Linked DNA regions of Homo sapiens: region 1 is linked to region 2. The links come from fine-mapping of genetic effects on gene expression. A gene starts in region 2. The other region holds a variant in brackets. All regions are shown on one strand. Distances are between the middles of the regions. Region 1 has its middle 15 kb from the start of NPR2. Region 2 holds the start of STOML2 (stomatin like 2).

Region 1 (2,906 bases), 670 kb before region 2:
ACAAGTACCAGGCTGGGCGCGTTGGCTCACACCTGTAATCCTAGCACTTTGGGAGGCCAAGATGGAAGGATCATTTGAGGCCAAAGTTTGAAACCAGCCTGGTCAACATAGCAAGACCCTATCTCTCTCTCTATATATATAAAAATAAATAAATGAAAGAAACAAGTACAAAAAAAAAAAAAACCACAAAACATGATTTAGGCCTGGCACAGTGGCTCACGCCTGTAATCCCAGCACTTTGGGAGGCTGAGGAGGGTGGATCACGAGGTCAGGAGATCGAGACCATCCTGGCTAACATAGTGAAACCCCATCTCTACTAAAAATACAAAAAATTAGCCAGGCATGGTGGTGGGCACCTGTAGTCCCAGCTACTGGGGAGGCTGAGGCAGGAGAAAGGTGTGAACCTGGGAGGCGGAGCTTGCAGTGAGCCAAGATCATGCCACCGCACTCCAGCCTGGGTGACAGAGCAAGACTCTGTCTCAAAAAAAAAAAAAAAAAAAAGAAAAACACCTGATTTAGATAACTTCATGTATAATGTCATAAAAACAAAGCTAAGATTGGTTGGGGTATATCTGGCCCAAGAATAAATTCAATTATTTTGATTTTCCACAAAGCAAATTTTTTTTTTTTTTTTGAGACAGAGTCTCACTCTGTCACCCAGGCTGGAGTGCAGTAGTGCCAGCTCGGCTCACTGGACGCTCCACCTCCCAGGTTCAAGCGATTCTCCTGCCTCAGCCTCCTGAGTAGCTGGGACTACAGTCGCCCGCCACCACGTCCGGCTAATTTTTTGTATTTTTAGTGGAGACGAGGTTTCACCGTGTTAGCCAGGATGGTCTCGATCTCCTGACCTCATGATCTGCTCACCTTGGCCTCCCAAAGTGCTGGGATTACAGGCGTGAACCACCGCGCCTGGCCCACAAAGCAAATCTTGATCAAACACTAGACAAGATGAACTGTAGGGCTGACTTAGACTCTTCCTTGAGGGCCAAGGATGACACTTTGAAAATAAAGAAATAAAATATTTATTTAGATGAGAATAGGGGGCCAGATGCGGTTGCTCATGCCTGTAATCCCAACAATTTGGGAGGCCGAGGGAGGTAGATCACCTGAGGTTAGGAGTTCAAGACCAGCCTAGCCAACATAATGAAACCCTGTCTCTACTGAAAATACAAAAATTAGCCAGGCATGGTGCAGACGCCCGTAATTCCAGCTACTCGGGAGGCTGAGGGCAGGAGAATTGATTGAACCCAGGAGGTGAAGGTTGCAGTGAACCGAGATCATACCACTGCGCCCCAGCCTGGATGACACAGCAAGACTCCATCTAAAAAAAAAAAAGAAGAAG[AAGG/G]AGAAGGAGAATAGGCCAAAAACAACAGGCATGATCTATATGACTGCAAAGGTTCCACATGAGTAGTCGTCATTGTCCTAAACACCTGCTGGGTCACCAAGAGAGAAAAACAGAGGAGTAATTTGATGCCAGCCTCTCCCACCAGTGACAGCTAAGAACACCTCCCACTACTGAGGGTAGCTAAACTGTCTAACAAAAAGGTCAAAGAAGTTTGCCTATCATCTGTGATTCAGAGGAAAACAAGAAAAGAGCATTACTGTTTTTTTCTTTCAAATCTAGGCCTTAAGCTAACCTGTTAGAGGTCAAATAAACAGGCTCCAAAATCCCCAGATTAAGACCTATTTGCAGTAACAATAAATGTAAAAGCACCTTGTATATTGTAAAGCATTATATAAATGTCCATTATTATGGTAATTATTAGGGGTCCGTCATATCCAAAATTGAACTACATCCCACCATCAGCAGTTTGGGACCATATTCTGGAAGAGTAAAGCAAAAATTTTTTTAAAAGAGTTTGCTTGTTTTTACACTGTGTAAAGGTTTTCAAATTTTTCATCTCTTCATTGAAAAGTCTAATAAGAAGAGCTGATCAGTAGTATATGACCAAAAAAGAGAAACTGTTCAACTTAGTTCAATATCCTTAAGAAGTGTACTAACTAGGAAGAGACAAACGCAAGCTTATGTGGAAGCGTGTGTAGTAAATGGTGGCGCTCCTTCCCATTCCCTCCACAGATGGCTTCCTGCTGAGCTCAGTCAGGGAGGCACTGGCAGAAAACTGAACGAGAGAAGCCAGACTATCTCTTCCCCTTCTCTCCCAGCCTTGGCCAGCATCTGGACAGGCACTCTTTGGCCCCAGCTTCCCTAGAACAGGCCCCCAAAGTTCCGGCTTCTAAGTTACCCTGCCCCTTGCACTTCCCCTCCTTCCCACAGCCTAGGGAGAATAGAAGGTTCGGTTGCTAATCTTCCCCTGCATTGCCTCACCTTCCCTTGAAAGGCTTCTCAGCTCTTCCACCATATTCACAGCCAGCTAATTCTCTGGATTAAATGCCCTCTGGTTTAAATGCTTAGAGTGAGTTCTGTTTTCCTGTTTGGACCCTAAATCTGGCAGCTAAACAAAAAAAAATGAATTTACTGCACTGAGGGCAAAGACCCTGGCTCCAAAACTGCCAAGTTCAAGGTTCACTGCTATCAGTGTGGGTCCATCCAGATGGAGTAATATAGAGGAGTGAAGAGACAGAACTGATTTCCCTTTTCTCCCAAAGGAACACAGGAGAGAAAATGAATTTGGAGAAAACAGAGAGAAAAGGGTATTATAAATTTCCTGCTTCCCAATCCTCGAGACAATATGGGGAGGAGGCTGCTGAAAAAGACAAGGATGTGACTGAAGCCCCCCCCACCAAAATTTGGGATGAGTCAAAGAGGGGAATTGACCTGTATAAAAACCAAAAACACTGAAAAGATTATAGTACTCCCCTCCTCCAAAAAAGAAATAAAAATAAAATCAATAAATTCAAATTTCCCCATAGTAACTATTTCCATGTTTTTTTTTGTTTTGTTTTTG
Region 2 (2,906 bases):
TTTTTAATTTATAATTTATTCAAATTGGATTGCCTTGGTAACCTCCCACACCTGATAATTGGCATCACTCCTCCCCGCTTCCCACTCTCAGATATTGCTCCAACCTCAGGAGTTGAAGAGGCTTATGCGGTGGGGGCAGGAGGAGAACTGCTTTCCCTCAGCTGAGGGAAGAGGGGCTATTCCAGAGGGACTGAGTCAGTAGCCAAAGACTCAGCTTCCCCTGTCCTTCCCCAGTCCCTTCACTTCCCCTACCCTCTGACCTATCTCTGAAAGCCAAGTTATGCGTATGTGTGTGTGCACAAGCTTGTCTTTGTGTGGTATGTGTGTGTGAGTGTGCATGTATGCACACACACAGGGGTTAACCACCCCTCACCTAGGGCTCCAGACTCCAGTTGTCCCTCTCCTCCTACCTGTGTCTCCTTGTTTTGGGGTCCTGACTGAAGAAGGTGTCCAGGGGGCAGAGTCAGGGCCAAGCACTGGGGTGCCTCCTCTCACCTGGCCAGACTCTGACCCACCTACCTCAGCTGGGGTGAGGGGCACCCCTCAAACTCAGTCATGTGGTTCCAAACTACCCCATTCCCCACTCCAGACTCTGACCCAGCCTCAGTCCTAACTCCTGGGGCTGGGCTGAGGGGAACAAGCATTTGCTGAAACTTGAAAAAACAAAGCAAATCAAAAACAGGAAAAAATTGTACCTGGTACTTTTTTTTAGAAAAAAAGATTAAAAAAGAAAGAATAAATTCTTGTTTGGAAACTTGAACTAAGCTCTACTTTTGTTGTTGTTGTTGTTGTTGGGGAGAGGGTGTGAAGGGGGATGGAGGGCCTTCCTGGAGCTGGGACTCAGCCCTTTCTACCAGAGAGGCAACAGGCCTGGGCCCATGAGGTCTTAGGCTAGTCCCTGCTGATTCCTGGGGCCTGGTTTTTCTCCTTTCGGAGGGGTTGGTGGGTAAAGTTCAGCCGTAGAAGCTGAACTCTGAATTGTAGATCAGGATTCTAATACTGGTTCTATTAATGACTTTAGCCCCTCAGAACTTCAGTGCCCTCATATGTAAAATGGAGGTGACTACGGAGGTCTCTTGACTACCAGAGCATTAGGGATGTGGGCAAGGTGACATGCTCCAGACAAGGTTGAACGTTGAGGCTGTTTGCTGGACTGTATTTAAGACCGGGCATAACAAACCTTGCTTGGGAAGACAGGGAAGGAGCTGCAGTGTCTTTGAGGAAAGAGGGGAGGGGAAAATCTCGGCCCAATCGCCAGGCAATATTAGGCCCAGTTTCCATGGCAACGGGATTGGGGTCAGTCCCCAGTGGGAGTCCTGGGCACAACACAGCGGGACTACCAGAGAATATCACTATGGCAACCATGGCAACGAGTCAGCTCCAATCCACTAGTCGCTATGGTGACAGATGGGGGCGATACTACGCTCTGGTGGGCAAACTGAGTCTCGGGTGAGGACGAATAATTCAGTGCGTGGTGTCTGAGTGATAATGCCCGCGAAAAATAGCCTCCATTTTGGCCATCAGGCCGGGGATCTTCGGCGTGAACAGCTAAACCCAGAACAACCACAGCCTTCGCCCTTCTCTAGAAGGTCTGCGTTTCCCAGGGAACAACTTGACGCGCCGTTCGACCAAGTAACGCTGATTGGGTGAGTGTTGAAGCGGGGGAGGGAGCTGCCGGAAGTACATCCGGGGGAGCGGAACTGCAAGAGGAAAGGCTCGGGTAGGCTTCTGGGAGCGACCGCTCCGCTCGTCTCGTTGGTTCCGGAGGTCGCTGCGGCGGTGGGAAATGCTGGCGCGCGCGGCGCGGGGCACTGGGGCCCTTTTGCTGAGGGTGAGAGCGAGGCAACCTTTCCAGAGGGTCAGGACAGAGATTACCTGGGTTCTCCGCTGGAAAAGAGCGAAATTCCAACTTTTGGAGAGGACTGGGGTCAGAGGTCATGGTCCCCATGTGATTCTCCGAGGATCCTGAGGGTCGTGGTTTATGGAGATGCCTTCAGGACCGAGGGGCGGCGTGTCTGGCCAGATGGGATCTCTGCTCACCCTCTTCTTTCCTTCAGGGCTCTCTACTGGCTTCTGGCCGCGCTCCGCGCCGCGCCTCCTCTGGATTGCCCCGAAACACCGTGGTACTGTTCGTGCCGCAGCAGGAGGCCTGGGTGGTGGAGCGAATGGGCCGATTCCACCGGATCCTGGAGCCTGTGAGAAACCTCTTCTGCCCACCCTGGGCCAGCCAGATGACCAATCCCTCACGACATGCAATGTCGGGAGGACTTCCTTTGGGCCTGCCCGCACTGTTAGCTCCCGACTCTGTAGGCCAGACCTGACAGGGCCCAGGCTGCTGACCATCATCCCCATGTTACCACCTTTTCCTATGCATCTCACAGGCCCCATTCTTGGGAATCTCCCCTGCCCACTCTCAGCCCTACCTCTCAGTCTGCATAGAGATGGCTATTCTGCTGGCTCCGATTCTCATGACTCTCCCCTCCATTCAGGGGCCTAGTCTTGCATTCCTGTTCTCTTGGGTTTTCTTACCAGTGACACCTCAGCCTTCTGAGGACTTATTTCTTGGTAGGAGCTGCTGCTTTTCTGGGCATGTTCCATGTGTTGACTCCCTACATACTCCAGGACTAGCTTAGGTCCCAACCCAATAGTTCCCAGCCTTCTGAGGACCCATGACTCCTCTTTCCAGGGTTTGAACATCCTCATCCCTGTGTTAGACCGGATCCGATATGTGCAGAGTCTCAAGGAAATTGTCATCAACGTGCCTGAGCAGTCGGCTGTGACTCTCGGTGAGGGGTTCAGGGTGACATGGGTGCTCTGAGGCTATTAGGATGTGGTTGCTGTAGATCCAGAGCTTAGTAGAAAGAACTGGTTGGGACCTAGAGGCCTGACTTTCCCCGTTTTCTCTC

What was found.
Region 1: its variant is fine-mapped to the expression of STOML2 in lymphoblastoid cells (GTEx, PIP above 0.99).

The regions. Positions count from the first base shown.
Region 1 is chr9:35,774,723-35,777,628 of GRCh38, reverse strand. It overlaps a transcript of RGP1 not described here. Among named protein-coding and RNA genes, the nearest start is that of NPR2, 15 kb to the left of the region's middle. The variant AAGG/G (reference allele first, on the strand shown) is at 1,343.
Region 2 is chr9:35,101,975-35,104,880 of GRCh38, reverse strand. It overlaps STOML2 (stomatin like 2), which reads left to right and starts at 1,750. Exons shown (of 10, transcript NM_013442.3): 1 at 1,750-1,831; 2 at 2,058-2,195; 3 at 2,687-2,786. The coding sequence starts at 1,787. It overlaps ATOSB (atos homolog B), which reads left to right. Exons shown (of 9, transcript NM_025182.4): 9 at 1-764. It also overlaps a transcript of PIGO-AS1 not described here. RefSeq lists enhancers at 1,483-1,532, 1,653-1,702, 1,713-1,982, 2,113-2,372.